Homo sapiens: one gene and its partner. The protein of the gene in region 1 purifies or fractionates together with the protein of each later gene. This does not show direct contact. Each region holds a gene or a part of one and is shown on either strand. Other genes may lie near its edges. The genes, in order: E2F8 and TTC33.

What was found.
Region 2: the proteins of E2F8 (region 1) and TTC33 purify together in Homo sapiens (affinity purification with mass spectrometry; 2 studies listed by BioGRID and IntAct, with this or other methods). This does not show direct contact.

The regions. Positions count from the first base shown.
Region 1 is NC_000011.10:19,233,341-19,249,030, reverse strand, and holds the start of E2F8 (transcription factor E2F8), read left to right. Parts: upstream 1-8,085; 5' UTR 8,086-8,483; intron 8,484-8,800; 5' UTR 8,801-8,909; coding exon 8,910-8,924; intron 8,925-10,898; coding exon 10,899-11,177; intron 11,178-11,560; coding exon 11,561-11,717; intron 11,718-13,972; coding exon 13,973-14,287; intron 14,288-14,509; coding exon 14,510-14,671; intron 14,672-15,690. UniProt on the Homo sapiens protein: Atypical E2F transcription factor that participates in various processes such as angiogenesis and polyploidization of specialized cells.
Region 2 is NC_000005.10:40,719,536-40,735,263, forward strand, and holds part of TTC33 (tetratricopeptide repeat protein 33), read right to left. Parts: intron 10,809-15,728; coding exon 10,727-10,808; intron 8,942-10,726; coding exon 8,810-8,941; intron 1-8,809.

The DNA of each region.
Region 1 (15,690 bases):
TCACATTTATTGATTTGTATATGTTGAACCAATCTTGCATCCCAGGAATGAAGTCTACTTGTTCATGGTGAATCAACTTTTTGCTGTGCTGTTGAATTCAGTTTGCTAGTATTTTGTTGAGAATTTTTGCATCTATGTTCATCAGGGATATTTGCCTGTAGTTCTCTTTTTTTGTTGTATCTTTACCAGGTTTTGGTATCAGAGTGATGCTGGCTTTGTAGAATGAGTTAGGGAAGAGTCCCTCCACCTTGATTTTAGGAATAGTTTCAGTAGAACTGGTACCAACTCTTCTTTGTATGTCTGGTAGAATTAGGCTGTGAATCCATCTGGTCCAGGATTTTTATGATTGGTAGGATTTTTTATTACTAATTCAATTTTGGAACTAAATATTGATCTGGTCAGTGTTTCAATTCCTTCCTGATTCAACCTTGGGAGACTGTGTATTTCCAGGAATTTATCCATTTCCTGTAGATTTTCTAGTTTGTGTGCATAGAGGTATATTCACAGTAGTCTCTGAGGATCTTTTGTATTTATGTGAGATCAGGCATAGCGTCACCTTTGTTGTTTCTGATTGTGCTTATTTGGATCTTCTTTCTTTGTTAATCTAGCTAGTGGTCTACTGATCTTGTTTATCCTTTCAAATAACCAACTTGGTTTTTGTTAATTCTTTGTATGGATTTGGGGCCTCAATTTCATTCAGTTCCACTTTGATTTTAATTATTTCTCTTCTTCTGCTAACTTTGAGATTCATTTGTTCTTATTTTTCTGGTTCTTCTAGGTGTGACATTAGATCATTAATTTGAGATCTTTCTAACTTTTTGAGGTAGGCACTCAGTGCTGTAACCTTTCTTCTTAACAGTGCTTTTGCTGCAACCCAGAGATTTTGGTATGTTGTATCTCTGTTTTCATGTATTTCCAAGAGATTTTTAAATTTCTGCCATAATTTCGTTGTTTACCCAAAACTCATTCAGGACTAAGTCGTTTAATTTCCATGTTATTGTGTGGTTTCTGAAAGATCATCTTGGTATTGATTTTTATTTTTATTCTGCTGTGGCTGAGAGTATGGCTGGTATGGTTTTGATTTTTTTTTTTTTAATTTATGGAGACTCGCTTTATGGCCGAGCATATAATCAATCATGGACTATGTTCCATGTTAGCACTATCGTAAAAGAGTATATAGAACTATATATTTTGCGGGCAAACTCAAATGCAATTCATTAATAACTATAACCACACGTGGATTAATATACTCTAGTCAATTTCCATATTGATAACTGTTGTGAGCTTTTATTAAGCTTTTTTTTTTTTTTTTTGAGATGGAGTCTCACTCTGTCGCCCAGGCTGGAGTGCAGTGGCACAATCTTGGCTCACTGCAACCTCTGCCTCCCAGGTTCACACCATTCTCCTGCCTCAGCCTCCCAAGTAGCTGGGACTACAGGCACCCACCACCACGCCCTGCTAATTTTTTGTGTTTTTAGTGGAGACGGGGTTTCACCGTGTTAGCCAGGATGGTCTCAATCTCCTGACCTCGTGATCTGCCCACCTCTGCTTCCCAAAGTGCTGGGATTACAGGCGTGAGCCACTACACCCAGTCTAAACATTTTTGATTAAGGCTTAGAGGAGAGCTATCTAATTCTTTTGGAAAATAAGTTGTTTTGTCAACAAAATTAATCTGTGTAGGTCCTATTCTGTCTCTGTATTGTACAATAAAGCAGTTCAATGAGCAATAAAACTCTACCATAATATATCTGGATATCATGAAGCATATTAGGTCAAATCATATCCTGAAAACCGTAACTTTAAGGGGTATTCATTAGTGCCAAGAAGTTGGAAGAAATCAGGCAGATTTCAGATTTCAGGGAGGAGTGGATTATTAGAATGTTTGGTGACTGTTTAGAACCTTATATGGGGGATGCCCCCAGCCTGACACAGCTGATCAAGAGCCTGCTCTGTCTTCTCAGTGCCTGAATTCACAATGACTGAGGGCCACTGAGGTGTAAGGAACCCACTTATGCCAACTTCAGTATCATTCCAAGAGAAACAGGGCATCCTCCCGTGACTAAGAGGCCACAATCTTGAAGAACTCAGAGAAGCAGACAATTTGTCCAGATGCAGTCCACATCTCTGCAGAAGAGGGAGAAAGAGAGAGGGGGAGTGGGAGTAAGTGAAGAGTTGGCTTTGTTGCTGGGATCCCAAGGGCAGCCAACATGTCCTGTAGCTGGTGCCTAGCTGAGTCCCTAGGCTTGGAGCAAGTGATCCATACATATGGGATGAAAGGAGAAGAGAAGAAAACTTGGGTTCCTAGGGAAGAAAAATATCTACAGAAACTTTTAAAAAGTACTATAGAGATAGAACATTTATTTTTAAAAAAAAAATAAAAAAGGCATATTTGTTGAATTGAGGAATGGCGAGAAATCTCACACAGGAAAAAAAAAATACAATAAAAGCTAACACTTTGCACCAGACACTTTCTACTGCTTGAATATAAACTCCAAAAGGGCAAGGACTTTATCTCTTTCACTCACTGTGTATACCTAGCACCTAATTCAGGGTTTAGGGGCATAGTATAGCACTCAGTATACTATTTTTCAGTGAGTAAATAAATAAAACCGAAGAACCTAGCTAAAGTAAAAAACCTGACATTTAAAAGGGAGTGGTAATTACGAGCTCATTTTCCTAGCATTATGGAACACCAAGTGTGTGCCAGGCATTGAACTCAGTACTGAAGATAAAGAGATTAAAAGACAAGGTATCATCTGAGGTTGGTGGGATAACATTCCAGAGTAGAATTTTACTCCATCAACCAACACCTATCAAGCCCCTGCTCTGGGTCCGGCACTTTGCTGGGCACTGGAAAGACCAAGAGATGAAGAAGTCCCTCTCCCTGCCTTAAGGAGCGCACAGTGGTGTAGGTGGGAAGCATCCATAACAGAGGTGCCTATATAGGGGTATGATCAAGAACAGGATGTGAATAAATCTGCCTGGAGGGGATCAGCACAGTTACCTTTCACTACCAGCTTTAAGCAAAGAGCAGCAATCATTGATTGATCAGGAAGGTTATAGGATTCCTGCATTGAATGGGACTTTTGTTTTTTTTTTTTTTTTAAGACAGAGTCTTGCTTAATGGCCCATGCTGGAGTGCAGTGGTGCAATCTTGGCTCACTGCAACCTCCACCACCCGGGTTCAAGCAATTCTCCTGCCTCAGCCTCCCAAGTAGCCGGAATTACAGGCCCCACCAGCACGCCCAGCTAATTTTTGTATTTTTAGTACAGACGGTGTTTCACCATGTGGCCAGGCTGGTCTCAAACTCTTGACCTCAAGTGATCCACCCGCCTTGGCCTCCCAAAGGGCTGGGATTATAAGCATGAGCCACAGCGCCTGGCTCCAGTAGGACTATATTTTAGGTAATAAATTCCTGAACCCTACTCCTAGGAATCTCTACATATACTTCTTTAATGTCCTAGAACCTGGAAAAGCAGGTTTTTCCAACCCACTGATAAGCACTGGATTACATGACATTATGACAATTTTAAGATTCCATGCGCAATAATAAAATGAGAACAGAACTCAGACTCCAGCTTCGCATGAGGACTCTCAGAAAAATTTGTGTTCTATTATCCCCAAAGTATTTTTAAAATTTAGAAGCTGGCTGGGCGCAGTGGCTCATGCCTGTAATCCTAGCACTTTGGGAGGCTGAGGTGGCCAGATCATGAGGTCAGGAGTTCGCGACCAGCCTGGCCAATATGGTGAAACCCCATCTCTACTAAAAATACAAAAATTAGCTGGGCGTGGTGGCGCGCACCTGTAGTCCCAGTTACTTGAGAGACTGAGGCAGGAGAATTGCTTGAACCCAGGAGGCAGAGGTTGCAGTGAGCCGAGATCACACCACTGCACTCCAGCCTGGGTGACAGAACAAGACTCTGTCTCAAAAAAAAACAACAAAAAAAGAAATTAGAAGCAGTAATTGCTCAATAAATGGCAGCAACTGTTGCTGCTGCAGCTGAGTCCAGGGCTGCAAATGTCTATATGGGGCTCATCAGGATACATCAGGGCCTATCAGGAATTTCCCACAGGAGGTCACAGGAGAGTCTGAAGGGATTTCACACACAGCCCTGCTGCTGCCTGGGACTTACTCTGACCTAGTCTAGCTCCACAGTCAGCACAAGCCAGCTCCAGGCATGCCCACTTCCTGGGTCCCTTGCTTGTATCCATCCTCTTTAACCCTGCCCAGACTAGACCCAGCATGATTCATTTGTAGGCTTAGTACAAGGACCAGGAATAGCTGAGATCTAGCTGTGAGCAGCCACAATCCAACCCAGCACATAGGGATTTGTGCAGTTTTAAGCTCCAGAGAGCTGTTTCGTGGTATCTATGCCAACACGTACTGCAGATAAAGCACAAACCCAAATTGCCCCACTAGGTCAGGAAGCAGAGTTGGTGATATAAGCACCTAGGAGGTGGGGCAGCAAGACAGACAGAAAAGGTCAAGAAACCCATTAGCTAGAACTCCTTCCTTAGCCCTTCATCCTTCCCTGCTCAGCAGGGGAAGGTCTTGCCTGTCTTTTTGGTGATGATGAAAAGGGACACGCTTCAGAAATCCCAAATGTTACCTTTGAATGTAGGCGCCCCGGTGATGCCTATCTTTCCTCCTTACCTTTGATATCTTTTTTCATAATACTTTATTTAATGCTGAACGTGTTACACAACGTATCAGCCCTCCAAGTTGTGCAATCCAGAAGGGCGACAGCACAGAGTAGAAAAACTGGTCTAACTTCAGTGAGACACAGATTACACAACATGATGAACAAAAGACCAGAAACAAATACACAAATATTCCCTTGGATTATGTAACTAATAAGTGGAAAACATATTTGATGGGAAAATTAAAAAAAAAAAAAAGTTTCAAGCTTATGCCCTGATCCTTCCTTCTTGGTTATGCAGTAAACATAAAAGTTTTCAGTAGTCTTTTCCCTCCTTTACACTCATGCTGCATTTCAAATTGATACTCTACACAGTGATGAGTAGAACCTTTCTTTCTTTATTACCTTTCATTACATGAAAGTGTTGTTAAGACTTCAAAACTGTATCACTTCACTCTTAATAAAACCACTTTTCAACATATTCAATGAGTTTGACTATAATTTCACTTCCTTCAGTAAGACATGACAACTATCAGTAAGCAAGAATTACACTCTCACCTTCCTGTTTTTTTGTGTGTTTAGGGAGGGGTTGAAATGGTTAAGGGCTAGCCTGAGTTGGCACTAACATTGCTCTCACAGGAACTTTCAGAGGCAGTGGAATGGGATGTATGAACTTGGAGCAGGTAGACCTGGATTCTAATTCTGGCTCTGTAGCTAACTTGGCCATCAGTTTAACCCTTTTGTGCCTCAGTTTTCTTCTCTATAAAATGGGACACAACTATCCTATGAAGCAAGTAAGGATGAGCACGCCGCACAGTGGTGAACACAGCTTTCAGTGGAAAGCCCTGAGACGTTAAACACCCTTGGCTTCAAATCCCAGTCCTGTCCCTTACAGTTAGACCTTGGGTTTGTCACTTTAAAATGCTGCTTCCCTCTCAGAGTCATAACCCATGCTTTCACACCTGTGCTGAGTATGAAATGAGAGGCCATCTGTCAAGTGTCACCAGAGGTGGCTGCTCCCTGCATGATGTGCCTTACAGGTAACTGTCACTCAGACATCTGCAGCATGAATGGCCCTGTAGATCACAGATTTGAACGAATTAGTCACTATCTCTGAACACAGGTGCATGAGGCAGACTGCTTCTAAAGAACTTTAAAAGGGATTTATGGCCCACAGGACTCCGGGGCTGTAATAACTTCGGGTACATTAGGCATAGCTGAATCTATGCACTCTTGGGAGCGCTGACCATTCAGGGGGTTGGGGGAGATGACAATCTGGCCAACAGCTAGTGGCTAAAGCAGAAGCACCAACTCCCCACTTTTTGTTGATACATTTAGAACCCAGTCTTGCTCCAAAAAAGGGGTACCTGGGCTTAGTAAGAACCAGCCGCTCAGTGCTAGCAACGGTGGAACCCTATATAGTGACCTCTGCTTTATTTCAAATCTGCGAGCCACAGGCAGTGGCCCCTCTGCACAGTACCTGAAAGGCCTGCTTTCAGGTCGAAGCGCCTTCTTGAGCAAGACCTGCACCTCAGCTGGCGACGAAAGGGGGACAGGGACACGACGGCGCCAACATTCCAGGGCGGCCACACCGCAAGCCTGCGGTCGCGTTCCGCGGGGAGATGAGCCTTCGCTCGCCACGGAGACCCCTGGCCCTATGGCCGGCAGCTGCTGCGCTGCGACCCCAGCCTCAATATCATAGCATCCCCGCCCTCATCGCGTTTCGCAGAAAATAAAAATGCCTCGCCCTGCTAGTCAGCAATGGGAGAGTCACTGATCCCCAAGTTAGCGGTGGGAGTGGGGAAGTGTGGCCCCGGGCCCTGCTGGAGCCTAAAGACACGCGATTACAGAGGAGGACGAGCCAAACCGAGTCCAGATCGAGAGACCGGCGCCCAGATCTCGGCGCGGTTGGGCAACACTCAGCACCAGTCCGCAGAAAAGTCTAAGGCAGAGGAGAGCAAAGGGAGCCAACGCGGGCGCAAATGATCCAGGTGCAGCCGAGGCAGCGCCGCCGCCCCGGGCCTCGGTGTCCCGTTCTGCAAAGTGAGGACGAAGGATCGAAGTGTCTCCCCGACCCTGCTAGGGCTCTACAGGGAACCAGGCTAAAGCTGCCTGAGGCTCGGAGACCGGAAAAAGAGGGAAAGACAACAGGGAAGAGAAAGGGAGGAGTGGGTGGGAGACCCTGAGGAAAGACGGCGAGGACAGGGTTGGAGGGTTTTCCGCCTTCCTCCTCTTCCTCCTACACCTGAGTTCTCACCGCTGGGCCAAGGCCCAGAGCCCACGGAGCTTAGGCACCAGTAGCCAAGCTTCTCCCTCCTCGCGCCAGTTTCTGCGAGGCACGGGGCAGACGGTGGGCAGCACAATCATGCATGCCAGGGGTGCAAGGGGGAGAGGTCCGGCTGGAGTCCGAGGGCAGGTGAGCCGGCCTGGGGCTGGGCAGGGGTGAGATAGCCCCAAGCGGGGAATCGCAGGGCGCCTGCGGCCCAGCCCGCGAGCCCCGGACGGGCCAAATTTTATTCCCCAACTTTGAGCAAGGGGAGGGGGTGTATGCAAAAAAAAAAAAAAAGGAAAAAAAAGTTGCTGAACTTTTCCCCCAACTCTGCCGTAGAGGCGGGAGTGGAGGGCGGTGCCTGCACCGATTCGCCGGCGGCTACGGTCGGGAGGCTCGGATTGGCGCTCGGGGGCCGGGGCCGGGGCGAGCGGGCGTGGGGGAGGGGAGCGGCCCTCCCCGCCCGCGGTATCGGCTCGCGCCGGGAGCGGGTTAATTTCAAATCGGGGGCTTGGCTGCTCCTGGACGGTCACGCTCCCTCTGCCCGCCAGCCGGCCCGCCAGTCCCGGTCCCGGCGTCTCTCTCCGGCACCCACCTCGGCGCTGCGGAAAGACTGACTGCCAGGTACGCGGGCTCCCGGGCCTGAGAGGGGCAGCGGTGCTGACGAGTCCCGGCTCAGCCCCCGCCGGCTCCCGCCGTGAGGTGGACTGACAGGTCAGCGGGACGCAGAGGGGCGCGGCGCCCGGGCGACACGGCACCGGGAGAGGGCTCGGGAGGGTGGCGGCGGCGGCGGCGGCGGCCGTTTCCCGCCTCCCGCTTCGCCGGGGGCCGTGAGGGAGGAGCTGAGCTCCCGCGCAGAGGGGCGGGGGCGAACGAGGGGGAGGGGCGGGGTTGCCGTGGTTCCGGGCGCGGGTTTGCCCGCGCTCAGGCCCCGCGCAGCTAAGGGGAGGCGCCGGCCACGGTCCGACTTTCCGCGCCAAATTTTTAAATCGAAGGCGGAAGGTCCGGCCCCGCCCCTGGCGCCGTCGGCCAATCGCAGGCCCGCTTCCGGCCCTCTGATTGGTCGGGAATTGTTGTCCTGGAAACCACGATGATGCTGTCCGGGAACTGTCGGGACTGCGGCGGGCGGACAGGGCCTGGGGGAGGGGCCTTTGGCCGAAAGTTGGGGGAAGTGCACTGAGCGAGTGGCGGCCGGGGGACAGTACCTGCTTGCCTTATTGGGCAAATACAGCCTTCCAAGGTGGAGTCTAACGCCGTGGTGTGAACTGGCCACCCGAACAGGGAGTAAATAGTGCTTTGTATCTTTAAGGAAGCCCTTTTTTAAATTTAAAAAAAAAGTCTTAATTATAAGACTCTTTAAATGCCCAACTGCATACTTGGAGCTTTGGGACTGAATTTGGAACTTTCCTGTCAAGCGACCTCCCACGACTTTACTGCTGAGCCTGTGCACGTGTGTGTAAGGGGAGAAATCCAGGCATCTAGATGCAGACTTGTACCCAGTTACTTGGGGTCGCGTGCGCTCAGCTGGGACCTGGGCTCGTGCGCTTAGTCCGGAGCCCTGATCTGCGAACAGGTGGGTGCTTCCTAAAGTATTCGCTGGGGTCCGGAGAATGGCTCGCCTTTTCTACAGATGGGAGAGGGCTGTCACTAGAAATTCCGTGGGTTGCTTGAAGTCTTAGGACCGCCGATCCGTTTGCTGAAGGAATTTACTGGCATTTGTTGGCGTTCTCCGCTCAGTGGGGCGATCTCTGGTCGAGAATAAAATGTAAATCTAGTTTGTCATTTTTCGTTAGGCTTTGTTTCCGTAGCCTCTTGTCCGTGAAGGAATTTTCAACAGATCTTTTGGTTCTTGTTTTTCTCTAACTTTTTCTATTTCCTTTTTTCTTTAAGGATATTAAAACTTTTAGTACAATTGATTGGACTACTTGAACCATCGGGATTTGGGGAGGAACTCCAGATTTTTCATTTTTAAACTCTAAATGTATGAGGAATTTACAGAATGGAGAACGAAAAGGTACTTTATAACTTCAGTATTCATCATTGCAATTTTAAATTCAGTATCATCCTGATTTAACTCCATAATTTTTCCCTATCCAATGTGTTTTCTTAATGCCACAACCTTGGTTAGCCTCTGTAAAGACCTGGAAAAAATGAACCTTATCTTATAGTTTCAAAAATATATAGTTTAAAATATATACTAATTTAATTAATATAGTTTAAAAAATGAAAATTATCTTAAAAAGAAATTCAGTCTCCAATCATGTCAAATGCCCTTTCTGAATTCCAGTTGTTCAAGAATCCTCAGAAATGTTGTAATGAAACTAACAAATTTTATTATTCTTAAAAATACCTTTTCTCTCTTTATGTCTGAGACAGCTACCAAATCATTAAAAACTAGAAAGAGTGTAAAGGGGCAAACCTACCCCTCTTCAAAAATTCGTTAGTTTCATTACAACATTTCTGAGGATTCTTGAACAACTTGGAATTCAGAAAGGGCATTTGACATGTTTGGAGACTGAATTTCTTTTTAAGATAATTTTTTACCAAATTGGCAGCTTATTTATGGGGTCTGCAAAATGCTCTGTTTAGGGGGCAAACATTTTGTAAAATTACAAAAGAATTGTCTGTGGGGGGTGTCCAACTACTAATAGGTTTAAAAAAGTGAACTTACATGCATATTTCCTAATAGTTTTAGATGTTAGTCAAATAAGAGAATTACTATTGCTTCTGATAATCTGAGGCAAAGAAAAAGCCTATTGTCAGATCAGTACATCTCAGATGCACACACTGGCAAGGAGCTCCTGTTGGGTCCACCATACTGACTTCCATGTAAGAAGAGCACCATACTTGGAGTGAAAATATCTGTGTTCCACTCCTACGTGACCTCTCTCAGCCTGCATCTTCTCTTCTGCGAGCTAAGAATGCAGGATTCCATGAACATACAAACGGAAATGCACTTGATAAACCCAAGATGTCACAACATGTCCCATTTGTCCATGTTCTTAAAGTTATTTGGTCTGCCTATTATTTTACTTATTGCTGTTCCAAGCATTTTCTTTAAAATAGATAAAGATGGGAGTAGTGTGTGAAGTCCCTGGTGTCCAAAACTGGAAGGAACATAGTCTCCATTAGCCTTATTTATGAACTGCTGTTAATTTACCCTTTTGTCTCAGTGGCTATCCTGCTTCTGCCAGGATCTAGCTTTGTGGTCTTAGGTAGCTGTTAGGTTGATGCAAACATAATTGCTGTTTTTGCCATTACTTTCAGTAGCAAAAGCCACAATTACTTTTGCACCAACCTAATCATTTTACTTCTCTGGGCCCCATTTTCTCTATCTGTAAAATGAGGGAGTGGATGTTCAAAGAGCAGACTTTTCTGGTCAGAAATCCTGCTGTTGGACACTCTAGATTTCCCTGATAAATCTGACCATATGCTATCCCTCACTCTTGTCTCCTTGTCTCTCTGACTCTTCAGTGGTATTTTATTTAGCACCCACTGCATGCAGCCATTATGCTAGGTGGATAAGAATTTCTGCCCTGTAGGCCTTTACTTATTACAGTGCCATGAGTAAACAAAAGTCATTTCTAGAAGTTTGATCATTTAACATTGTCAGTCCAATTAGGGGAAGCTGAGTGAAGGGCATTTGGGAACTCTATACTGTCTTTGCTTCTCTTCTCTAAATCTAAAACTATTTCAAAATACAATTAAAATTATAAGTCCTAACTAAAGTTGTTTTTTCAGTGGTTGAAACATAAGGTGAAAACATTTATGGCTTATTGCAAAATTAAAAATGGGAAATGTAATTATTAGAATTGACAATACACATCACATGACCATTAGAATACAGTTATTAATTTCCTCAACTCTACAATCTCATTAGACATTTTTTCCTTGGCATGATTCTATTCGTTATGCAATTTCTAGAATCCAAGCTGTCTGATAAATCCTGTTTTACCATGGATTTAATTATTTACATTTTTTAAACCAGGAAAATCTCTTTTGTGAGCCACATAAAAGGGGACTAATGAAAACACCTCTGAAAGAATCCACCACAGCAAATATCGTGTTGGCAGAGATCCAGCCTGACTTTGGCCCTTTAACCACACCTACCAAGCCCAAGGAAGGCTCTCAGGGAGAGCCGTGGACACCGACAGCCAACCTGAAAATGCTCATCAGTGCTGTGAGCCCTGAGATCCGCAACAGAGATCAGAAAAGGGGTTTGTTTGACAACAGAAGTGGATTACCTGAGGCCAAAGACTGTATACACGTAGGTTTTCAGAGGACTGGTTGGAGGCTGGGGAATTTGTTGGGGGGAGGGGGGAGGTTGTAGCTATTAGAGAAGTGCCAGCAATTTAAAGCATCACCACCCGAAGGCTGTTATTAACTTCCTTCGGAGCACCAGAAAGGTTTGGACCCCAAGAAATATAGCTCTGGGAATTCTGAACCTTTGCGTTATTTTCGTTTCAGGCTTTCCTTTCAGGTTTGCCAAGCATTTTGTACTGGCCCCCCTAACCTTTTCTCCCATCCAGACTTTGCAGCTGTTGAAGCTAAGCGTGTGTAAGTTGGTGTCAGTCATCGAGCACAGATGCCCCTAATAAATCTGTCAGACTTTATTTTAGAATAAGACATTGTTTACCTTTTCCTTTGTAGGAACACTTATCTGGAGATGAATTTGAGAAATCCCAACCAAGTCGAAAAGAGAAAAGTTTAGGATTATTGTGTCATAAGTTCTTAGCACGATATCCTAATTATCCCAACCCTGCTGTGAATAATGACATCTGCCTTGACGAAGTGGCAGAGGAACTTAGTAAGTATGCAAAGAACTCACTGAAAGAATTAATAATTAAAGTGGCTTTATGGACTTAACTCCTTCAGACCCCCGCTCATCTAGCCAGTGTTTGTAAATGACACAAATAAGCCGGCATGGAAATTTTCTATCTCTAAAGCCCTCTTCTAATATAAGAATGAAGGTAAGTAGTTGCAAATTTCAGCAAATCTTGGAGGCAGAAAAGTCACAATGGAGGTTGCTTCTGACTACAGTTGTCTCTGAAGCTTTAAAGAAAGGCAATATTGTCTCATGACTTGTTTCACAAAGTTACAACTGTGAACTTTTGCTTCATTGCTCTCCCTTGCTGTTCTTGAAGAATCAGGCTGATAAATGGTTATCTTCCTAGTTGACGCTGAGGATCAGCTTCTGTGAGTGGGAACAGGACCTGTGCACTCCTGGACCTTCAGCACTATTCTGAGGACTAGTTTTCTGAATGTTTTGTGTTGGGCACAAGTTATTCCTCCTGCCCCTTTTTACTCTGTTCAAAGACCTGAATCTATTTGGAGCTAAAAAGGGGCCCGTGGTGAATTTGGGGTACCTTTGGAGTCATGTGGGTATCTTAATTTAAACCTGTGAAGTGATGTGCTGTGCAAGATAATACATTTTAATACAAAGCAATCACCCCGTGAAGAAAAGTTGCCCTTCTAATACATGTTTGTAAATATCAACTTTATTTCACATTTTAAGAATATACCGTTTAGATTCATCTACTTTTCATATATGCTTAATGGTAGCTGGGTAGGATATTCAGCAAATATCTATTAATCTTCTACTACTATGTGTCAGGCAATGTTGTAGGAGCCTGGGATACATCCGTAAACAAAAAGGGCAAAATCTCTTCTCTCTTAGAACCTATATTCTAGTGGGGCAATAGATACTGAGTAAAGGATATAGGAAGTAAGTAAGGATAATACATGCTAGAAGGTAACATGCATAGTGGAAAAAATAAATTGTAGATCAGGATCAAGGGATCAGGAGTGCTGGGGAGGTGCTTTGCCATAAGTGGTCAGATCAGGCTTCGTTGAGAAGGTGACATCTGGGCAAGGACTTGAAAGAAGCAAGGTAGGGAGCTGTAAGGACATCAGGGAGAAGGGTTCCAGGCAGAAGGAACAGCCGGTACAAAGCAAGTGCATATCTGGCAGGTTCCAGGGACAGCAAGAGGTCGGTAGGATGCACCCTTATTAAAATAGTGTTTTATTGATCACTTTTCCAGAAAGGCTGATCTCATCAAATATTTAAATTGAAATTAAGTTTCTTGAACGAAGAGAATTCTAACATTACAGAATATTGAAAACCCAATTTAAATAGATAGAGTCACAGAATTACTAATATCATATTGTTAATGATAGCTAGAAAGTAAGCAAAATTAGACCCAAAAAGGCATATTTTATTTTTATGTAAGTTTTTAAAAACTACATCATGGTTTTTGTACTTTTCTGAAATCTCAGCATTTTGTTTCTATCTTATGATCATTACAGATGGGCGTGTGTGTACGTGTTTGTATTGGAAGCGGTTGGAAGGTGTGAGATGTAGAGTTTTAAAGACTTGGTTTGCTACTTGCTAGCTCTTTTGGGGTGAGCTACTTAGCTGGTCTGAGCCTCTGTTTTCTCATCGTTTTTTTTTTTTGTTTGTTTGTTTGTTTTTGAGACGGAGTCTCGCTCTTTCGCCCAGGCTGGAGTGCTGTGGCGCGATCTAGGCTCACTGCAAGCTCCGCCTCCCGGGTTCACACCATTCTCCTGCCTCAGCCTCCTGAGTAGCTGGGACTACAGGCACCCGCCACCACACCCGGCTAATTTTTTTGTATTTTTAGTAGAGACTGGGTTTCACCATGTTAGCCAGGATGGTCTCCATCTCCTGACCTCGTGATCCGCCCTCCTCGGCCTCCCAAGGTGCTGGGATTACAGGTGTGAGCCACCGCACCCGGCCTTTCTCATCCTTTTTAAAGTGCAGATCATAATACCTACTTCACAAGTTTAGGGTGAAAACTTCCTAAAGCTGTGTAGCACAACTTAGGCCCTCATTAAATGTTGCCTTTCTAATTCATATGATTTGTGCCCTTGGAAAGCAAGCACATGTCTTTCTCACCTTCACAGTATTTGTTGAGTATGTTCACTTACAGTTAGGAAAGTGATATTATCCAAGACCTACTGACTAATAAACCAATGGAAGAAAAAGCTATTCAATTCTAAACACGTTACAAAAATCTGTAACACACAATTGCACATTCTTTGTAGATGTTGAACGTCGACGCATTTACGATATCGTGAACGTCCTAGAGAGTTTACATATGGTGAGCCGCCTCGCCAAAAACAGGTACACTTGGCACGGGCGACACAATCTCAACAAAACCCTTGGCACCTTGAAGAGCATCGGGGAGGAGAATAAGTACGCCGAGCAGATTATGATGATCAAAAAGAAAGAATATGAGCAAGAGTTTGACTTTATTAAGAGTTACAGTATAGAGGATCATATCATCAAATCAAACACTGGCCCAAATGGACACCCAGACATGTGTTTTGTGGAACTCCCTGGAGTGGAATTTCGGGCAGGTGAGAGATGGTAGTGAAAACTCCAGGCGGCATGGCATTTGTCCTCTGTCTAAGGAAAAGGTTCTGTGGAGAACACAGCTCTAAAGCTACTGCTGCCTTTAATGTTCAGATGCCACAGTTGTCAGCTGTATGATCAGGTGGTAGTATTTTTAGCCTTGTTACTTTAGAAGTCACTTGTCCCTTTATGAATTTTAATTCTCTAATCCTCATCCTTCTCTAAAGCTTCTGTAAACAGCCGCAAAGACAAGTCTTTAAGGGTAATGAGCCAGAAATTTGTGATGCTGTTTTTGGTGTCAACGCCTCAGATAGTAAGCCTAGAAGTTGCTGCCAAGATTTTAATTGGGGAGGACCATGTGGAAGATTTGGATAAAAGCAAGTTTAAAAGTAAGTGTCATGACTGCCATGGATTTTTGAACCTATTCTTAAACAATAAAATCTCAGTCGTAAACTCATTTCCAAATTAGGAAACATAGGTGCATAAACAGATCTTCTCTAATTATGTTTTTATATCTTCTCCCCAGAAGCCATGATAATATTGATTTAGCTAACTTGTTATGATACATAAGTATCACTACTCTTTTTTTTTTTTTTTTTTTTTAGACGGAGTCTAGCTCTTTTGCTAGGCTGGAGTGCAGTGGCGAGATCTAGGCTCACTGCAACATCTGCCTCCCGGGTTCCAGCAATTCTCCTGCCTCAGTCTCCGGAGTAGCTGGGATTACAGTTGCGCGCCACCACACCCGGCTAATTTTTATATTTTTAGTGGAGACGGGGTTTCACCATGTTGGCCAGGAGGATCTCGATCTCTTGACCTCGTGATCCACCCACCTCGGCCTCCCAAATTTTGGGAGGCCTCCCAAAATTACAGGCCTGAGCCACTGCGCCTGGCCAAGTATCACTACTCTTATTTGACACATTGCTTCATTTGATATTGTAACATTGTTCTCAAAAGTAAACACGGCCAGGCGCGGTGGCTGAAGCCTGTAATCTCAGCACTTTGGGAGGCCGAGGAGGGCGGATCATGAGGTCAGGAGATCCAGACCAACCTGGCTAACACAGTGAAACCCCGTCTCTACTAAAAATACAAAAAAATTAGCCGGGCGTGGTGGCGTGCACCTGTAGTCCCAGTTACTCAGGAGGCTGAGGCAGGAGAATGGCGTGAACCTGGGAGGCGGCGCTTGCAGTGAGCCGAGATCGCGCCACTGCACTCCAGCCTGGGGGACAGAGCAAGACTCTGTCTCAAAAAAAAGGAAACACTAGAAGAATCTGTTCTGTGTGAGCTCTAAATGAGAGTAAATTGTAAAGTGGGTCTGCACCCTGGTCTCCTTCCACTGATGCTGATTACAGAGGGTTTATAAATGACTCATAAAATTGTCCCCAGAAGTGACCTGCAGCACAGGTAGTCT
Region 2 (15,728 bases), on another chromosome or scaffold:
CATATGTCTTCATTTCTCTTGGGTATAAAGAGTGGAACTGTTTTGTCATATGATAACTATATGTTTCATTTTTTTGAGGAGCTGCCAGACTGTTTTCCAAAATGGCTATAACATTTTACATTCCCACCAGCAATGGACGAGGACTCCAATTTCTCCACACCCTCACCAACACTTCATATTGTCCATCTTTTTTATGATAGTGAATGTGAAGTAGTATCTCAATGTGGTTTTGATTTTCATTTCCTTGACAAGTAACAATGTTGAGCATCTTTCATGTGCTCATTAGCTGTGTGTGTATCTTCTTTGGAAAAATACCTTTTCAAATCCTTTGTCTATTTTTAAATTACATTATTTGTCTTTTTGTTATTGAGTTGTAAGAGTTTTTTACAGAGTCTACATACTAGACCTTTATCAGATATATGATTTACAAATATTTTCTTCCATTCTGTGAATTGCCTTTTCACTTTCTTGACAGTAACTTTTGAAGCACAAAAGTGTTTAATTTGAAGTCCAATTTTTATCTACTTTTTTCTTTTGTTGTTTGTGCTTCCAATGTCATATCTAAAAAATATTAATATATTGCTGAGTCCAAGGTTACAAAGATTTACACCTATGTTCTCTCCTAAGAGTTTTATAATACTTTTAGTTCTTATGTTTAGGTCTTTGTTTGTTTTTGAGTTAATTTTTACATAAAATGTGAAGTAAGAGTCCAAAGTCATTCATTTGCATGTGGATATCCAACTGCCTCAGCACCATTTGCTGAAGACTATTCCTTCCCCCATTAAATTGTCTTGACACCCTTGTCCAATTAACTGTAAAAATGTAGGTTTATTTCTGTACTTTCAGTTCTATCCCACTGATCTATATGTCTACATTATGCCTATCTAAGTACTATACTGTCTTGATTACTAATGCTTTCATATTTACTAAACTTAAATATACATATGTATTTAAAGTAAATCCAAAGAGCTGCAATTACATTTTCAAATTTAAGATAGTTTAAAATCTCCCAAGGGCACTCCTCTTCAAAGAACTTCACAAAACAAAATGGCAGAGGAGTAGCATCAGCAAGATGGCAGAGTGGGAAGCCCTGGACCCTCCTTCATCCAACAAATACACCAATTCAGCAACAATTCACAAACAAAATTCCTTTGTGAGAAATCCAGAAACTAACTGAAAGGCTCCTGCACCCTGGATGAATAAGAATACACACTCATCAAAGCCAGAAGGGAGATTCAGGACACCCTCTCACCAGAATCCTACTCCCAGCACAGCTCCACAGGATTGGGAAGAACCCTGCAGCTCCAAGCTACCCTCAAGGGAAAGAATGAATTGGTCTGAGTGTCCAATGCCCCAACTTCTACGGTGGCTACAAAAAGTACTGGTTTCTGTCTTGCCTGTTTTTTGGACCACTGTTAAAACAAGTCCTACATAATCTAACCACCTACAGGAGACCAGAGATAACGGAGGTTTGGAAGAGTAGTCACCCTATCTGTTCCCCCAGCTTGGCATACAGTGAGCGAAGAAAATTCCCAGCTCCCAGATTTTGCCTAGGGAAGAAAAGAATTGGTCCACACTGTGTCCAATGCCCCAGTTTTTATGGGGACTACCAAAAGGACTGGCTTCTGTCTTACCTGTAGTGGAGTACTGATGGAATTTGGCAAAATCCAGCTGCCTGGGGGCTAGGAAGAACAGAGAGGGATATTTGGGCTGGAAGTTGCTATCACCCCTTCCCTGAGCTGGGCACAAAGTAAATGGACAAAATCAATTTTAGAAGTAAGAACAAAACTAGGGGCATCATACTCATGAATTTCAAAATATATTACAAAGTGACAGCAAACAAAACAATACGATTCTGGCATAAAGTCAGATATATAGACCAATGGAACAGAATAGACAGCCTACAAATAAATCCACACCCAACATGGTCAGCTGATCTTCAACAAGGGCATTAAGTATACATAATGAGAAAAGTCTAGTTTCTTCAACAAATGATGCTGGGAAAACCGGATATCCGCGTGCAAAAGAATGAAAATGGATCCTCATCTTACACCATAAACAAAAGTCAACTCCAAGTGCATTAAAGACTTAAATGTAAGACCTGAAGCTTACATTGTAGGAGTCTTATGACTCCTACAAAAAAAACAAAAACAAAACAAAACAAAACAAAAAAACAGGGAAAACCTTCATGACATTGGTCTTAAAAATGATTTCCTGAATATAACACCAAAAACATAGGCAACAAAATCAAAAATAGGCAAGTGAGATTACATCAAATTAAAAGGCTTCTGCACAACAAAGGAAACAACCACCAGAGTAAAAGGAAACCTATGGAATGGGAGAAAATATTTGCAAATCATATCTAAGGTTTTAACTTTCAAATATATAAGAAATAACTCAATAGCCAAAAAACCTAGTAACCTGATCTTAAAATGGGCTAAACACTTGAATAGACATTTCTCTAAATGGCTAACAGGTATATGAAAAGATGCTCAATATCACTAATCAGGGAAATGCAAATCAAAACCACCATGAAATATCACCTCATGAGTCCCAGCTACTCGGGAGGTGAGGCAGGAGAACCGCTTAAACCCGGGAGGCGGAGGTTGCAGTGAGCCGAGATCGCACCATGTCACTCCAGCCTGGGTGACAGAGGGAGACTCTGTCTCAACTCGCTCACTCAGTGCTCAATGTTGCCCAGGCGTGATCTCGGCTCGCTGCAACCTCCACCTCCCAGCCGCCTGCCTTGGCCTCCCAAAGTGCCGAGATTGCATCCTCTGCCCGGCCGCCACCCCGTCTAGGAAGTGAGGAGCGTCTCTGCCTGGCCGCCCATCGTCTGGGATGTGAGGAGCCCCTCTGCCCGGCCGCCCAGTCTGGGAAGTGAGGAGCGCCTCTTCCCGGCCGTCATCCAGTCTAGGAAGTGAGGAGCCTCTCTGCCTGGCGGCCCATCGTCTGGGATGTGGGGAGCGCCTCTGCCCCACCTCCCCGTCTGGAATGTGAGGAGCGCCTCTGCCTGGCCGCGACCCCGTCTGGGAACTGAGGAGCGTCTCTGACCGGCCGCCCCGTCTGAGAAGTGAGGAGCCCCTCCGCCCAGCAGCTGCCCCGTCTGGGAAGTGAGGCGTGTCTCCGCCCCACAGCCGCCCAGTCTGGGAAGTGAGGAGCGTCTCCGCCCGGCCAGCGCCCCGTCCGGGAGGTGGCGGGGCAGCCCCTGCCCGGCCAGACGCCCCGTCCCGGAGGTGGCGGGGCAGCCCCCGCCCAGCCAGCCGCCCATCCGGGAGGTGGGGGGCGCAGCCCCCACCCGGCCAGCTGCCCCGTCCGGGAGGTGGGGGGCGCCTCCGCCCGGCTGCCCCATCTGGGAAGTGAGGAGCCCCTCTGCCCAGCCGCCACCCCATCTGGGAGGTGTACCCAACAGCTCATTGAGAGCGGGCCATGATGACGATGGCGGTTTTGTCAAATAGAAAAGGGGGAAATGTGGGGAAAAGGAGAGATCGGATTGTTACTGTGTCTGGGTAGAAAGAAGTAGACATGGGAGACTCCATTTTGTTCTGTACTAAGAAAAATTCTTCTGCCTTGGGATGCTGTTAATCTATAACCTTACCCCCAACCCCGTGCTCTCTGAAACATGTGCTGTGTCCACTCAGGGTTAAATGGATTAAGGGCGGTGCAAGATGTGCTTTGTTAAACAGATGCTTGAAGGCAGCATGCTCCTTAAGAGTCATCACCACTCCCTAATCTCAAGTACCCAGGGACACAAACACTGTGGAAGGCCGCAGGGTCCTCTGCCTAGGAAAACCAGAGAACTTTGTTCACATGTTTATCTGCTGACCTTCCCTCCACTATTGTCCTATGACCCTGCCAAATCCCCTTCTCCGAGAAACACCCAAGAATGATCAATAAATACTAAAAAAATTTAAAAAAATTTCAATTAAAAACCTCAAAGCATAGGTTTAACAATTAAATAAAAGCTAACTCAAATTAAAAAAAAAAAAAAAAGAAATATCACCTCACATCTGTTAAAATGGGTATTATCACACACACAAAAAAGGTGGCCAGATGCGGTGACTCACACCTATAATCCCAGCACTGTGGGAGGCCATGGTGGGCGGATCACCTGAGACCAGGAGTTCAAGACCAGCCTGGCCAACATGGCAAAACCCTGTCTCTACTAAAAATACAAAAATTAGCCAGGCGTGGTGATGGGCACCTGTAATCCCAGCTACTTGGGAGGCTGAGGCAGGAGAATCACTCGAACCCGGGAGGCAGAGGTTACAGTGAGCCGAGATCACACCACTGCACTCCAGCCTGGGCGACAGAGCAAGATTCCCTCTCAAAAAAAAACAAACAAACAAAAAGGCAAGATGTGTCAGTGAGGTTATGGAGAAACTGGAACCCTTGTATATTGTTAGTAAAAATGCAAAATGGTGTAGCCATTATGGAGTTTCTTCAAAAAATTAAAATTAGAACTACCATGTAATAAAGCTATCTCATTTCTGGATATTTATCCAAAAGAATCAAGATCTCAAAGAGATATTAGCACTCCCAGGTTCATGGCAGCACTATTCACGATAGCCAATATGTAGAAACAACCTAAATGTCCATCAAAGGAAGAATGAACAAAGCAAATGGTATACACACAAAATGAAATATTTTTCAGCTTCAAAAAAGAAGCAAATTCTACAATACACAACATGGATGGGACTTTGAGGACATTATGCTAAGTGAAAGAAGCCAGTCACAGAAAGCAAATTCTGCATAATTCCACTTATACGATATCTCTAAAACAGGCAAATTCATAGACTCAAAAAGTAAAATTGTGAGGCAAGGCACAGTGGCTCACGCCTGTAATCCCGGAACATTGGGAGGCTGAGGCAGGAGGATCATGAGGTCAGGAGTTCAAGACCAGCCTGGCCAACACGGTGAAACCCTGTCTCTACTAAAATTACAAAAATTAGCCAGACATGGTGGCACACGCCTATAGTCCCAGCTACTTGGGAGGCTGAGGAACGAGAATGGCTTGAACCCGGGAGGTGGAGGTTGAAGTGAGCCGAGATCACACCAGTGCACTCCAGCCTGGGGAACAGAGCGAGACTCCATCTCAAAAAAACAAAAAACAAACAAACAAAAAAAAACAGAACAATAATAAAGCTCATAAACAAACTTTATTTTTCAAGAAAAAAACTCAATTCTTAAGTGTCAACATACAACATTTATAAAGACTATAATTCAAGAATTTGTACTATTCAATTATAAAAAAGATAATGCAGCTTGACTCAAACAATGTCTACAGTAATTAACTAAACTAAAAATTTACAAGTGGATTTTTTTTTTTTTTTTTGAGATGGAGTCTCACTCTGTCACTCATGCTGGAGTGCAGTGGTGCGATCTCAGCTCACTGCAACCTCCACCTGCCAGGTTCAAGATATTCTCCTGCCTCCTGAGTAGCTGGAACTACAGGCACACACCACCATGCCTGGCTAATTTTTGTATTTTTAGTAGAGACGACGTTTCACCATGTTGGCCAGGCTGGTCTCAAAACTCCTGACCTCAGGTGATCAACCCACCTCAGCCTCCCAACATGCTGGGATTACAGGCATGAGCCACCATGCCCAGCCAAATTTTTTTTTTTTTTTTTTGTAAATATAGGATCTTGCCATGCTACCCAGGTTGGTCCAAACTCCTGGCCTCAAGCAATCCTTCTGCCTCAGCCTCCCAAAGTGCTGAGATTATACGCGTGAGCCAGGATGCCCAGCCCCTCAAGTGAAATTTTAAAAACTCTCAATCATCTTCCTTTTGTCTGGAAATTATCACTTGTCCATCCCATTACTACCATTACAAAAGCGAAACAATAAAAAGAATCAAATGATGCAACTGAAATTTCTAATTAAAGATTTGCTCATGCAAAATATTAAAACCAATGGCTAAAATGAGACTTGGAAAACAGAGAAAACATTAGTAAACAAAATTAGTATTTATTGCACATTGGCATGAAGAAAAGCAAAAGCTGGCAATGAATTACACAGAGCCCGAAGAAGGGAAGCCACAAAGCTAGTTCCAGCACTGAAGGCTGAGAACCCTGGAAAGCCAACAGAAGAATCCTTCCTGATACTGTTACCTCCTGGTATTCATTACCTTTCCCAGTCTCCTTCCCTCTCTACCTTCTTCTTCAGGATAAATCCCTTATGTATTCCTTTCTCACCATCCCCATTCCCTCATACAGAATTTTTAACTCCCAGAACCATTCTCTTCAGCTTTTTTTTTTTTTTTTTTTTGAGACAGGTCTTGCTCTGTCACCCAGGCTGGAGTGCAGTGGCGCGATCTCAGCTCACTGCAAGCTCCGCCTCCCAGGTTCACGCCATTCTCCTGCCTCAGCCTCCCGAGCAGCTGGGACTACAGGCGCCCGCCACCACGTCCAGCTAATTTTTTGTATTTTTAGTAGAGACGGGGTTTCACCGTGTTAGCCAGGATGGTCTCAATCTCCTGACCTTGTGATCCGCCCGCCTCGGCCTCCCAAAGTGCTGGGATTACAGACTTGAGCCACCGCGCCTGGCTTCAGCTTTCTTATTCTCTCATCCTTCCACTTCTTAAAATCTCATTCTCATAAAGTCTTTTATATATATATATATATACACACACACACACGTATATATATATAAAATGTATACCATATACATACATATTTTATATATATATATCTCCTATAAACATTTTCCAATGTTCACATCCAACTCTTACAAAGTTTAAATAATTATTCATGGAGATATACCCAACTACTGACTTTTAATTTACTGCCTGTGCTATTTACATACATAATTTCCTATGGTTTTAGTCCATATGTATATATAGTAAGAATTGTTAGATATTAGAAATTCTAGCTTGCTTTCAATATATTTTACATAGTGTCCCTTCGTTATGACATTTTGAGTCATCTTTTTTTTTTACCATTCTAGTCTTTTAAGAGAACAGCTTAAATCTACATAAAAACAGAGAAGATTCCTAAAAATTACATTTAAATGGCAAAAAAAAAATACTTTCAATTCTTCTAAGAATTTCACAGTATTAATGAATAGAGCCATATCAACAGAAAAAAAAAAAGTCGAACTGGTACTCTTATTCAAAAAAATTTAAATATTAAATTATTTTTATTGGATGATTCAAAGTATCTCCGTCTCACCTGCAGTGTATTTTCTTTCTTTATAAAGGACAATCTTTACTAAATATTATGTCCTAGAGATTTGTTCCATTACCATAGACACTATTGGCAAAAGAGATAGTGATGTATAAATTTTTAATAAGGGAGGCAAGGAAAAAGTATTATATGATAGGGTTTTCTTCCCCTGTTAATGTTAGAAAACTAAATTCTTTGAACTCTTTTTTCCAACTCTGGTATGATTTAAGTCTTCATGTAAAAAGAGAGAAGTTGACAGTGCTAAATGGCAAGAAAAAAACAGTACTTGGTTAAAATGGTTTCTATCACTGTGAATCTCATTTAGATTATCATTAACTTACTTTAATCAAATCAATTATTTTCTCATACAAATTCCTTACTATTTCTGAGAATTTGACAAACACCTTTTTTGGTAAGTAGAAATAATGATACATTTATAAGAATGCCAGAAAAAAAGCTCAGTCATCCACAATTTACTAAAACCACTGTTAGTAAGTTTATATTTTGAATTTATCAGTAATTTTAGTCTTGCAAGAAACTTTTAAAATGTTTTATTTTGAACTGTAAAAAATAAAACCATTTTTAAAATCTTAATTTACTTAATAACAAGGAGGAAATTTGGCACTGTATATTAGATTTGCAAACACTTGTTAGGAAGTTAAATTTCGTTAGCTATCAGGTGTATATAGCCCTGCCAAAAGAAAAACAACAGGACAGCTGTCACAGCTAATTCTTACCTAGATAGCCTCTGCTACTAACAAGGTATAGTCCAGACAAATTGAGAGATGCATTAGGTACCAGTTTACGGTAAACATTACACAATGAGTATTTCATTTGCACACATTTCTACTCTTCCTCTTTATCCCCTCAATAAGCCTAACAACTTTTCAGTCTAAATGTTCATCACCATTACCCTCCCATATTCTACTGTCTTCCTTCCCCTGTATAATCTATCAGCGGTTTTGTCTCCACAGTGATACTAATACCACTTTATAATGTGGTAAATGTAATGATCCAAAGAACTAAGCCAAAAAGTTGCCTATTGTCTATTTAAATAAGGTTTACCAAATGCCAATGTTTTATGTTAAATTTTTTTTAATATCCATGATGTCAAGTAACTGAAAAATATTCTGATCATGATATAATTAGTGTCTATAATAAAAAAGATGTTCAGTAATACCTGTGAACTGTGTTTATGGATTAATACCTTTAAGAAGTAATTTGCTAATTGTTTTTTGTATAGACTTGATAAACGGCTATTCACTTTTGGGTTCAGTTAATCAAAAATATGTCAAAATAGACTGGGCATGTTGGCTCACGCCTGTAATCCCAGCACTTTGGGAGGCCGAGGCTGGAGAATCATTTGAGGTCAAAAGTTAAAGACCAGCCTGACTAACATGGTGACACCCCGTCTCTACTAAAAATACAAAAACATTAGCCAGGCATGGTGGCGCATGCCTATAGTCCCAGCTACACAGGAGGCTGAGACAGGAGAATCGCTTGAACCCAGGAGGCGGAGGTTGCCGTGAGCTGAGATTGCACCACTGCACTGTACCCTGGGTGACATCAAGACTCCATCTCAAAAAAAAAAAAAAGTCAAAATATACTTAAAATTTCTGCATTATAATAATCTGACTTCCTCACCAGGATTATCTCTCCTAAACCAAGTTGAGCACGTCCCAAAGTCTGCCAAGACTCCCATGAATGTGGATTTTGCTGGACGGCCATTTCTGCTGCATGTACTGCTGGGAACATTTCATGAAGAGACATTAGCACCTATAGGCAAAAAAAGACCAAAAAATCTGTCAGTAATATTCATAAACTAGCAACTACATAAAAAACCCTTTTCATTTTTTAAGATATATTTTTAGTCCAGTAAAAATAGCATTTCGGTGATTTTTACCCCTTACTCTGCCATTCAGGGTAAGAAATTATAGTTCTCTTTTCACCCCTTATATAACTATGAAAATGTAAACGATTCCCTTTCCAGTTATTGAATCTTATGTCCATCTGGTCAAAACCAAGTGGTCATATCCTAACTATGGTGGCTCAGAGGTATTTTGAACTCCCAATTCCACTTCCATTTATTCTATTTACAATGTGGTTTTCAGGGAACCCCAGGTATTGCCATTAAACTAGGTGAATTAATTTGTTCAACCAGCCATCCCGTCCCTAATGAACATCTTTATGTTATAAAAAGTATTTAAAACATTCCCTAGGCCTTCTCACTACTGGGCATTTCAAACCATACATACTAGGAAGGTAGGGTTAGGGTTAGGGTTAGGGTTAGGGAGAGTTAGGGTTACCAGAGAGTTCTAGTACCCTCCACTGTGGTCTGTGGGAAGAGGCTGGATTTTATCTATAATCTTTAGGACCATTAACACTTTAAAAGATTTGTGATACAAACATTATTATCAGGTTCCAAATTAAACAAGTCTTCATAAAGCTTGCCACAAACCTGTCATTCATATATACATATTTAAGATTGAAAAAGGAATACAAATGAAGGTCCTCATATCACTTGATTCAGATGACATAATTTATTTGGGTTTTTCCTGGATAAACTAAAGTCAAAGGTGACAAATGTGTGTCCTATATTTGAGATCACGATTTGAAAAATATTTGTTAGGTGTGCAGATTAAGGCTGAATTGCAACAATTCCCTGCCAAAAATATGTTTAATGCTCTGTGTGAGACTTTTAAAATCACTTGGATAACCTATTCAAGTGCTCAAAGGTTTTCTTTACAGACTTTCCTACAAAATATTAGAAACATGTTTTTAAAGTACAAATGTTATTTTTAAGCTATTAATAAAATTGCATCTATGCTGACCTTTTGCTAAGGACTAAGCCATTTTTAGAAATATCTCATCTAGAACCCAATCCATCCTCATTTTTAAGAAAACTGAACTATTTTGCTAAGTCTACTATATTTAATCACAAGGAAAGCGTATGTTTTTCATCTAAGAGCTCAACAGTGACTTTTTATTTATTTTTTATTTACTTATTTATTTTTTTGAGATGGAGTCTCGCTGTGTCACCCAGGCTGGAGTGCAGTGGCACTATCTCAGCTCACTGCAACCTCCGCCTCCCACGTTCAAGTGGTCCTCCTGCCTCAGCCTCTCAAGTAGCTGGGACTACAGGCATGTGCCACCACGCCCAGCTAATATTTGTATTTTTAGTAGAGGCAAGGTTTCACCATGTTGGTCAGGGTGGTCTCGAACTTCTGACCTCAAGTGATCCACCCACCTCGGCCTCCCAAATTGCTGGGATTACAGACGTGAGCCATGGCACCTGCCCACCAGTGACTTTAAAAGATAGCCACCGATTCCTATCTTACAATAGTTAGGCTAAAATAACAGTTAACTTCATTGTAAAGGCAAATGAATTTCCAGTTTTATGCATAAGACAGAACCATAAATAATGGTGAAATATTTTTTCCCAAAGAAACCGTATTTGTAAAAGAAAATGGGAGAAAATGCTATTTTGCTTCATCATTGCTCACTCACCGAACAAACATAGCACAATTTCATAAGGAAAGTGAAATTCTTCATAATTATTACCTGTGATTTCATCTCGTATAGGGTAGCATCATTTGGAGTTAACTGTAGTGCTTCATCCCACTTCTGAATTGCCTCCCGATATCTGTGGTTGTTAAAGTTATATCAATGCCATATTTTCAATATGCTTTTTTGGACTTTCAAAAAAAAATTTTTATTGTAGTAAAATATAAAATTTACCATCTTAACCATTTAAGTGTACAGTTCAGAGGCATTAAGTAGCATTAAGTACATATAGTTCATTCACCTTTGTGTGCAACCACCACCACCATTCATCTCCAGAACTTTTTCATCTTCCCAAACTGAAACTCCATACCCATTAAACAATAACTCCTCATTGCCCCCTCCTCCACCCCCGGGCAAACACCATTCTACTCTTAGACTGCTTTCAGGAGGAGCAGTCATGTACTTTCAGTTCAACAGTTTTTTGGACTACTTTCTAGTCCATGAAATATATGTAAAAATCCAAAATAAAGGATTAGCAAATTAAGTCCAGCAACTTACTAAAGTACAAAATCCACATGATCATGTAGTGTATGCTCAGAAAAACTTAGAAATGGGTTCATATGTAACAGATAAGGGAGAAAAAAGTACATGCCACTAAACAATACTTAGTATAATTTAACACCCATTTCTGATTATTTATAATAATAATAAAAGTATATACAACATTAAATAAATTTAGTACTGTGGTGCCATCATCTACTAAGCTTTAATGATATAACCTCTAAAAGCAGTAACTATATCACCTAAAAAGAAAGTACTTGCACTTCTTTAGGCATATTGTGGGTGATTTCAAGCCTCTCTAAACAATATTTCCAAATGTTATTGTAGATGTGACAGGAAAAACTTTGGAAATTAATTTATTGATGTATTCCTTCATAACAATCCTTCCACTCACAATTTTCTAACAAAGGTAGCAGTAATAAATTCTGCAAGACTTAATAGTAGCAAATGTCTTTCCTCCAGCATTAGAAGGAAAAGGTTGGACTGTTTGTCCAATCTTTTTTCTACCACTCCCTACACATACCTGTGCTCCACTCAGCAGGGTTTTTATAGTCCCTACCCACATATCATGCCTTTGTTAGTATGGATCCCCTGCTACACATACACACACACACATCTGTATTAGTTCACTCTCACGCTGCAATAAAGAACTGCCCAAGACTAGGAAATTTATAAAGGAAAGAGGTTTAATTGACTCAGTACCACAGGGCTGGGGAGGCCTCAGGAAACTTACAAGGATGGCAGAAGGGGAAGCAAACACATCCTTCTTCACATGGAGGCACGAGAGAGAAATGAGCGCTGAGCAAACAGGGAAGCCCCTTATAAATCCATAAGATCTCGTGAGAACTCAGTGTCATGAGACCAGCATGGCAGAAACTGCCGCCATAATTCAATTATCTCCACCTGGTCCCATCCTTGACACGGGGATTATTACAATTCAAGGTGAGATTTGGGTGGGGACACAGAGCCAAACCATATCACATATCTAAGATTGCCTTCCTACTCCTCTTCATCTATTCAAAGGCTCCTCCTCTAAGACCAAGTTAAAATGCTCCGTTCTTCATGAAGACCTCCTCCAGTGGCTCTAGCCCACTAACTATGAGTACCACTTCAGACCACATAGCAACACTTATATTTCCAAAGCATTTTATGTTTTACAAAGCACTTTCAATACAATTATTTAACATACAATTATTTTCCCAAAAAGTTAATTCACTTACTACTCAAAGTAAGTGAATATAAATTTGGTGTTATTTGCTTTTTTAAAAATTATTTTGAGAGACAGAGTCTTGCTCCGTTGCACTGGCATGATCACAGCTCATTGCAGCCTTGAACTCTTGGGCTCAAGGGCCTCCCACCTCAGCCTACTGAGTAGCTAGGACTACAGGCATATGCCACTATGGCCAGCTAATTTTTTTATTTTTTTATTTTTGTAGAGACAGGGTCTCACTATGTTGCTCAGGCTGGTCTCAAACTTCTGGCCTCAAGCAATCCTCCTGCCTTGGCCTCCACAAGTGCTGAGATTACAGGGGTGAGCCACCATGCCTAGCCTCAAGTTTGGCATTACTTGTTCTCACTTTATTGATGAGGAACCAATGGTTGAGAGCAGCTAAAGGACTGTCCAAGTCCTGCAAAAGACAGGATTTAAAGCTAGCTCTTAAAAATACAAGACCAATACTTTCTGTAACTATATCAAGTATGCCTCCCATTTAGTTCTGCTCTAATTCCTCCTTGTATTTTTGTCTTCTCTTCTCTAATGAGTTCAGGAACCAAAGGGTAGATTTGTTTATATGCTCTACAGTACCCAGAACATTTCTGGGAATGTAGAAGGTACTAATATAACAGATTTTTTTTTAGACAGTCTTGCTCTGTCACCCAGGCTGGAGTACATGGAGTACAGTGGCATGATCTCAGCTCACTGCAACCTCCACCTCCCAGGTTCAAGCGATTCTCCTGCCTCAGCCCCCCGAGTGGCTGGGACTACAGGCACATGCCACCACACCTGGCTAATTTTTGTTTTTTCGTAGAGATGGGGTTTCACCATGTTGGCCAGGCTGGTCTTGAACTCTTGACCTCAACTGATCTGCCCGCCTCGGCCTCCCAAAGTGCTGGGATTATAGGCATGAGCCACCGCGCCCGGCCTAATATAACAGATTCTATCTACCTCATTTGTCCTACCTTCTCCAAGTCCTGAAGGCAGCAGAGAGCAGCATATAAAGCAAGAAAAGAGGGGACAGATGTAGCATGCTCTTAACACACAGGAAAAAAAAATGGTAATAAAAACAAATTCTATCCTAAGACAAAAGTGGTAAAAATGTAAATTCTTACTTTGTTCCGTTCATTATTTCATATATAGAAATTATAAGAAATCCCAAGACTAGGGGAATGTGAATATAGGTAGAAAAAAACAAAAACATGAGAATTCTACGTTTAGCAGAGGGACCTTAAGAACCTGGATGTTTGAGGTTTCAGGAGTCTTTGACAGCTTTTGAGGAAGGGGCTGAAGGTCTTTGGTCTCTAGAGCAAGGGGTGGCATAGTAAAGGTCCATATAGTAAACATTTTAGGTTTTGTGAACCATACAGTCTATCACAACTATTCAACTCTATTACTGTATCCCAAAATAAGCCATAAACAATGCATTCAAAAAATGGGCATTGCTGTGTCCCAGTAAAACTTTATTTATAAAAACAGGTTGTTTTTATAAATAAAGTTTGCCAACCCTAGATCTACTTGGCCCAACCACTGTTAAAAGCTTATCATATTTGTCAAATTTACTTTTTACTTCCAGTCCTATTTTCTGCCCAACTCAACCAGAGGAAGTTATCACCCCATAGAAGGCATTTGTGGTCATCACTGTGACTTGGAGGAACTAGTGGCAGAGGGTCAGGGATGTTAACATTCTTCAAGGCAAAGAGCAAGCCTGCACAATAAAGAGCTGTCTTGCTGAAAATACCACTAGCACTACTGCTGAGAACAGGATGGCTTATCCCGTCCCCAACCCCACAAAGCTGCTTATGTTCCTAAGCTTAAGTTGTCCCAAGTACGAAATAAACTAAGAGGTTCAAGGTGACAATGACCATCACTAGTTTTTTCTTTTTATTAGGCAGGTATGCATGTGTGCATATACATACAAACAGACATACACACACACACGTGTAAACACAGGCTTACAGATTTGAGAAAAAAGAAAAATGTCCTCTCTTCTCAACTGCACTGTCTTTTATTTTGAAAGCATAACCATTGCTGCCAGCAGAGGCATCCCTCAATGAAATGTGCTTTGTTGCCAACGAGGCCTATAAAGGTTTAAAGGAACAAGTGAGCTGTTTTCCATGCTAAACAAAGCAAGAAATGGTGGGTATTTACTTCACTATCATCAACTTATTCAATTCTTCCCCCTTCTCATTTCTCTTTGGTTTACTTCTGTTGGCCTGCAAACAAAGGGTGGCACCACTTAGTTCCTCCATTTTTAGATCACAGGAAACTTGGCACTGAACAAATCAATAGTCTCTCATAATTTCTGCAGCATATCTCTTAATTCAACTTCAGTTTGGAACAGACTGAACAGACACAGCCCTACTGCAGCTGTTGGATAGGAAGCATTAAAAGATAAAAACTTGGTTTAAAGTCACTGTGGTTAATAAATGACCAAAGTCTGATTCCGCCAGTTTAAGGACAATCTTAACAGTATGCAACTGAAGTAGCACAAGGAAGGAAGCAAAGGGAATAGTTCCATGGACTACAACAGGGCAGGATGAGATAATGCCCTATACTGAGGTAAAGAACAGCTGGTGATCAAGCTAAATAAGTTAGATAGCACACTCATTTACCAAATAGAAATGTCAATGTGTTTAGCTACTTTACTCCCAATTAGACTTCTAATTTACTGTGGCTTTAAATTTAATGAGCTATATAGTTAACAGCTTATTCACTTTATAAATATTTACTGGGCACCTACCCTGGGACAGGTAGAATTCTAGTAATAAGTACTAAGGATGCAGCACCCAACAAGATATAAAAGGTCCCTACTATTCTTCCAGATCTTACTTTCTAAAGTGTATGCATGTTAGAAGGGGACAGGGAAAGAAAGATAACAAACAGTTAAAATATAAGTGCCGTGATAAAAGACAAATGGAGGAATGTGATAGGGAGTGACCAAGTGGCTATTCGGAATGGGCGGTCAAGAAAGGTCTTCCTAGGAACGCATTCAAGCTGAGACCTGAGTGACAAAACGTGGTCAGACAACTGAAAATCTGGAGAAGGTCCATTCCAGGCAAAGGGAAGAACCTGGGGCAGGACCAAACCATGTTTTGTGGAAAGGAAATAAAACCAGAGGAAAGGAAGTCAGAGGTCAGGGAGGTGGGCCGAAGCCATGATCACAGAGAATACAATAAGCCATAGTTATGCATGTGGATTTAATTGTATGTGTGATGAAGAATCCACAGAGTTTTTATACAACAGTGAGACATGAATTATTGATTTACATTTTTAAAAGATCAG